Homo sapiens: one gene and its partner. The protein of the gene in region 2 purifies or fractionates together with the protein of the main gene of each other region. This does not show direct contact. Each region holds a gene or a part of one and is shown on either strand. Other genes may lie near its edges.

Region 1 (3,500 bases), on a different chromosome or scaffold from region 2:
TACCGGTAAGGCCACCTCTACCTTGCAGCTCTGGAAAACTGGTCAAGCAGGGCTCACTAGCCAGAGAGAGGTGAGAGGCACAGATAGAAGAGTGACAGGAATAAAGAATAGTGAAAGAACACTGATTTTGCCAGGGCAGTGAGTGGAATGGTACGCCACTAATGCACTTACTCTACAGTGCCACACGCTACTCCTTTATTTTATTCTCAAAACTCTCAGGTAGGTATTTTTCTCATTTCACAGATGAGGAAACTATGGTCAAGAAAGGGTGCCAGATTTATCCTTTTTTTTTTTTTTTTTTTTTTTGAGACAGGGCCTGGCTCTGTCACCCTGCCTGGAGTGCAGTTGGCTCACCCCAACTTCCTCCTTCCGTGCTTAAGTGATCCTCCCACTCAGCCTCCTGAGTAGCTGCAACTACAGGCACATGCCACCATGCCCAGCTAGTTTTTAAAATTTTTTGTAGAGATGGGGTTTCACCATGTTGCCTAGGCTAGTCTTGAATTCCTGGACTCAAGTGATCCACCCACCTCAGCCTCCCAAAGTGCTGGGATTACAGGCGTGAGCCACTGTGCCTGGCCAGACTTATCTGAAATCACATGCCAGTAGATAGCTGAACTGGGATTCAAACTCAGGTCCCTCTGACTCCATAGCTGTACTGTTTCCACTGTGGCAAAACATCCTGTTTCTGATTCCTGGTCCTCTCCATTTCCTTATGCATGACCTTGGGAAATGCATCCAAATTAACGTGTGTTTTAAGGACCCCATCTGCAGAGCAGATACGGTATTTCTCTGTCTCCCAAAAGGTAGAAGACTAGGATCACTGATTTCATAAGGTACTAAAAGCACTTTGTAAATCTGCAGAGGTAATTCTCCCACTATTTGTTCTGTTATTGTCATCTGTCCTTTAACATGTTTAAGCAGTATTTTATACTTAAACAATATTTAATACTCCTCCAGTGGCCCTTTTATTTTTGTCATTTAATTGTTTCTTTAACATGAGGTAAAAGATGAAGGGATATGGGGGGCAGTGTGGTGCTGAAACTACATGGAGAAATCCTGGCTGAAGGATGGCACTAAAACCAAGTGTAAAACCTCTCTGAAAGTTGGCATCCAAGGCAAAAAAGGCATTCTGATGAGTTAATTTGCCAAGAGTGTAAGTTTGTTTTCAGCTACTTAGAAGGCCTGGTCTCTGAGGAGGATTTGTCATAAAAGCTTTTATATGAAAAGCATTTTTTACCAAAAGTGCAGTCCACATGATGTTAAACCTCCATTTTTTTTTTTTTTTTTTTTTTTTTGAGACGGAGTCTCGCTCTGTCACCCAGGCTGGAGTGCAGTGGCGTGATCTCGGCTCACTGCGACCTCCACTGGGTTCAAGCAATTCTCACGCCTCAGCCTCCCGAGTAGCTGGGATTACAGGCACGTGCCACCACACCCAGCTAATTTTTGAGTTTTTAGTAGAGATGGGGTTTCACCATGTTGGCCAGGATGGTCTCGATCTCCTGACCTCATGATCCACCCGCCTCAGCCTCCCAAAGTGCTGGGATGACAGGCATGAGCCACCGCGCCCGGCCTAAATCTCAGTTCTTTAAAAGCAAATCTGGAAACAAGCAATATGGCCTGTAGCACTTTCTTCTCTCCACTGTTTGAGTTTAAGCCCATCTCCCACTTCCTCTCCCATTCTTTCATCTTTTCAGTCCAACTCCACTTCCTTCTGGCTTTCCACAGTCTTTCTCTTTTCTGTTCACACTGACTGCCCTACCCACCTCTGCCCTACTCCAAACACACAGACCCCTCTTTGGACTTCCCCTCCCTCCCAATGGCCCTTGAGCTCTCTCTGCTCTAACAGGCAGCCCAGCCCAGCTCATTCAGCTGCTTTTCTTCCTCCCTCCACTTAGACTGACTCTTTCTTTCTGGGGATCAGATATGTTCTTCAGGGGAGCAGTTCTCAGCAGGTACACTGCAAACAACTGAGATGTGTATTGCATGGAATTTGTTACCACTGTTGGTAAAACTGCCCAAGTTTTGGAAACGATTTACTTTTTATATAAATTGAGAAGATTTGAGGTCATCTCTCTAATAGCATCACTTTCTCTTGCTTGCATTCTAATATGCTTCCTTGAGGGGGAGAGAGAGGGTGGCATGTCAGCTGGTGTGCCAGGAATTATACGTGACATGCAGCCTACCTTATCTGTACTGCAGCCTGTAATCTGGGTGCCTGTGGGAGTGTGTTATGCACCATCACATAATGTCACGTGTGTCATGGCAGAGAAAAGGGTGAGAATTGGTGCTGAAGAGAGCTGGTGCCAAGGCCTGGAAGAAGCCAGATGGTTCACACCATCCATGAGTCATACCCTTGTTCAAAGATAGGGAGGTTGCAGTCACCTTGGGGAAGAGGTAAAAGGCTAAAAAGGAAGAAGCTGCTTCCTACAATGTTTCAGTCTCTCTCCTCCCTTCCACCCCCAAAATGCCTTTCAAATGAACAGTGATGAGTGCCTGTATCTGTATGGCGAATCAGACACAATCCCCACTTCTATCGTGTAGTGGAGGAGTTAGACACATACACAGCTATAATGCTAGGAAGGTGGGTAAAGGCCATACAAAAACTAATAAGTTAACATTTATTGAGTGCTTGCTGCACACCAGGCACTGTCCTAAGCACTTTACCTGCATTAACTCATTTAATGCTCAGAATAGCTATGTGAAATAGGTTCAGATTATTAGCATCACCACTTTACAGATGAACAAACAAGGCTCAGGGAGCTTAGCTCACTTGCCCTCTGTTAGACAGCACCCAGGCAGTGTGGCTCCAGAGCCTGTGTGTGCTGGCCCACTCTAGCAGCCAAAGTTCCATTTCCCACATAAGAGGAGAAACGAGCTAATGTTTTTCTAGGGCCTGCTGTGTGCCACTTGACTTAGCTCATTCATTTTTCAAAACAACTTTTTAATAAAAAGATAAATGTACATATTTGCACACGTCTGTATGTGGTCACACATGACTTAGTGGTTAGGTGGCATTTTACACCAAGGTGCTCACACTTCCTTCCATGGGCCTGCTGGGGGTTGCTGGAGCCTGATGGGGTAGTAGGCACTGGGCAAGGTAGTATATAAATAAATGTAAAGGCCAAGAGTTTGTGGCCTATTCATTTTTATAATTCCATATAACCCTGACAGTTTCTTTGTGAGTGGGTAGTATTATCCTCGTTCTGTCATCAGTAAAACTGAGGTTTAGTACAGCAGTGATGTCCTAAAAGTCATAAAATGGCAGAGGCAGGATTTAAATCTGGTTTGCTTAGAAGCCAAAGCCCCATCCCTTCCTTTGTACCCTGTAGTTTACAGTGCCAGAGTCTAGGCCACCTATAGCATGCCAGGCAAGGAGCACCTTCTCTGTGTGACAAGCACCGAGAGCAGCCCTCAATTCCAGGCCTGTTGGCATAGTAAGTGATACAGGTTGGACATTAAGAGCACTGGGCTGGAGGTTGAATGCCTCTGCCTCTGCCACT
Region 2 (2,889 bases):
CTTCCTAATTGGGTAATGTTGGGCAAGTTCCTTAACCTCTCCATACCTCAGTCTGCTCACCTGCAAAATAGGGGTAACACTACCACCTGCCTCACAGGGTTATAAGGAGTATAACAGTTAATATAAAGTTCTTACAATTCCTGGCACACAGGAAGTGCTATAAAAGAGGCTGGCTGGGAGCGATAGCTTACACCTGTAATCCCAGCGCTTTGGAGGCCAAGGCAGGAGGACTGCTTGAGCCCAGGAGTTTGAGACCAGTCTGAAACTGGTCTCAACAAAAAATTTAAAAATTTTGTAGAGACTCCCGTCTCTACAAAAAATTTAAAAATTAGCCTGGCATGGTGGCACATGACTATAGATAGTCCTGGCTACTCAGGAGGCTAAGGCTGGAGGGTCACTTTAGCCCAGGAGATGGAGGTTGCAGTGAGCTATGACTGCCCCACTGCATTCCAGCTTGGTCAAGAGTATGATCGTGTCTCTTTGAAAAAAAAAAAGTGGCTGCTGTCATTAGCATGCCTACTTTCAAACTGTTGAATTTCTACCTGGATCCATTTAATTTATTTGTTTATTCTGAGACAGAGTCTTGCTCTGCTGCAGGCTGGAGTGCAGTGGCATGATCTTGGCTCACTGCAACCTCCGCCTCCTGGGTTCAAGTGATTCTCCCATCTGAGCCTTCCGAGTAGCTGGGACTACAGGCGCCCGCCACCATGCCTGGCTAATTTTTGTATTTTTAGTAGAGATAGGGTTTCACCATGTTGGCCAGGCTGGTCTCCTGGTTTCAAGTGATCTGCCCACCTCGGCCTCCTGAAGTGTTGGGATTACAGGTGTGAGCCACCGTGCCCGGCCTTTGGGTGCATTTTAAATTGCAGATAGAATACTAGAAGAAAATATATTACCCATGGAGGATGTTTTACAAACCAAAAAGCTTCTTCTCCCCTGGGGTTGGGAGTAGGGTCGGGTGGGGCTGGGCTGAGCAGGAACTTGTGAGATTCCAGAGCCCTGACTACAGGTGATCAGCGGTCAGCAACTCCCCAAAGTGGACAAGACCAAAGAGGGGTCCATTGTGGATCCACTGGTGAAAGTGCAGATCTTTGGCGTTCGTCTAGACACAGCACGGCAGGAGACCAACTATGTGGAGAACAATGGTGAGAAACTGGCAGTGCTGGGGAGGTGGGGGTAGGAGCATGATTAGTTTTCCTTCTAGTCTGTCTTCCATTAAGTATAGCATCTGTTATTGCATGTCCCCACATGGGAGGCAGTGTGGAACAGTACAAAGAATCCTGGCTCTTCACTTAAAAGCTCCAGTGACCTGGGCAAATTACTTGCTTACTCTGAGCCTTTTTCCTTACCTGTAAAATGCTGATTGCCATCTAGATTAAATGAGAACACAAGAAAAGCAACCCAGTCAAGAAAACTGTCATAATGTCTTCTTATTTCTTTCTGTCCACCAACTCAGGTTTTAATCCATACTGGGGGCAGACACTATGTTTCCGGGTGCTGGTGCCTGAACTTGCCATGCTGCGTTTTGTGGTAATGGATTATGACTGGAAATCCCGAAATGACTTTATTGGTCAGTACACCCTGCCTTGGACCTGCATGCAACAAGGTGAGCCAGCCCCTTTGGCCCCTGGCCAATACCCCAGCTCTGGCTGCCTTCCTAATGCTGTCCTCCTGCCCCTTCCAGGTTACCGCCACATTCACCTGCTGTCCAAAGATGGCATCAGCCTCCGCCCAGCTTCCATCTTTGTGTATATCTGCATCCAGGAAGGCCTGGAGGGGGATGAGTCCTGAGGTGGGCATTTCACGGGAAGGGTTGGTGTGCTGGCTTTAGACGGGGAGAAACATCTGGAAGGATGCTCGAGAGAACAAATGGAGGTGGTGAAAATCAAGCTTTGGATTGTGCATTCCTAGGCACAAAATTACCTCATTCTTCCTAACAAGCAATCTGGGACCTGATTTTCCACCTTTTTTCTCTTTTCTTCCCTTCCTTTGTTTTCATAAGCCTTTGGTATCTTTCCTGCCCTTTTCCTTTGTGTACTCTATACTGGAGTTCCCTTCTTCCTCTTGCTGTAGGCTCAATCCCATACCGACATCTACAACTAATCTTTCCCATCAACTCTGTGTGAAGGCAGGTTGCAACTAGAAATTCAGAGGGGCTTGGAATAGAGAAACCTAAAGAAGCATCATCCCCTCCATCCCCAACTTCCTCAAAGCCCAAAGCCAAGGGAAGGATAAATCAAGGCTCAAGGCTTCCCCAGCAAAGATTAGGGAAAGAGACTTGACCCCAGGACTGTACTACGACTCTTAAGAGAACACTGCACAGCACTCAAAGTCCCCCACTGGACTGCTTCCTCCTTAGCCCCACTGGTATAAATACATCTCTCTCCAATTTGGCTTCAATATGGTCTGTCATTGTTGGGCAAGAAGGGGAGGTACAAGGGTTGTGGGGACATCTGGGTAGTCAGGTGAGACAAGGAAAAGGTAGAGAAAGAGGTTCCCAGGAGACCTCTTGCATGTGCTACATAGGAAGGACACAGAGTATGGCTTTTAAGAATCAGGGCAAAAGCAGACAAAAGGTTATGTGGTCCCAGCCTTCCTGAAGAGTCTGGCTGGAACCATCCTGGTTTATGTCTGTTGTCCCAGCATAATTATTAATAGTACCCTCTTTAAGTTTTCCCAGTGTGTCTCAGTTTAGATGATCAATTATATAGTAAGGCACTACAGAATTATACTGTGAAGCAGTTATAGAATTCTGAATTGGAGATTTTCCTCTCTAGTCATCTGCCTTTCCATAGTATCCTTGTGCTTTAACACCTTAGTGTAGCTGCTGAGCCAGTCTGAGGATTGATGATGAGCTAAAGTTGCTTCTAGGAGGAGGCTTAGTGGGTA

The links. The genes of interacting proteins can lie anywhere in the genome.
Region 1: the proteins of PLCD4 (region 2) and BRPF1 purify together in Homo sapiens (affinity purification with mass spectrometry; one large-scale study listed by BioGRID and IntAct). This does not show direct contact.

Annotation. Positions count from the first base shown.
Region 1 is NC_000003.12:9,734,735-9,738,234, forward strand, and holds part of BRPF1 (peregrin), read left to right. Parts: coding exon 1-5; intron 6-3,500. UniProt on the Homo sapiens protein: Scaffold subunit of various histone acetyltransferase (HAT) complexes, such as the MOZ/MORF and HBO1 complexes, which have a histone H3 acetyltransferase activity.
Region 2 is NC_000002.12:218,634,787-218,637,675, forward strand, and holds the end of PLCD4 (1-phosphatidylinositol 4,5-bisphosphate phosphodiesterase delta-4), read left to right. Parts: exon of another isoform or gene 1-1,009; coding exon 1,010-1,145; exon of another isoform or gene 1,146-1,456; coding exon 1,457-1,606; coding exon of another isoform or gene 1,607-1,684; coding exon 1,685-1,791; 3' UTR 1,792-2,389; downstream 2,390-2,889. UniProt on the Homo sapiens protein: Hydrolyzes the phosphatidylinositol 4,5-bisphosphate (PIP2) to generate 2 second messenger molecules diacylglycerol (DAG) and inositol 1,4,5-trisphosphate (IP3).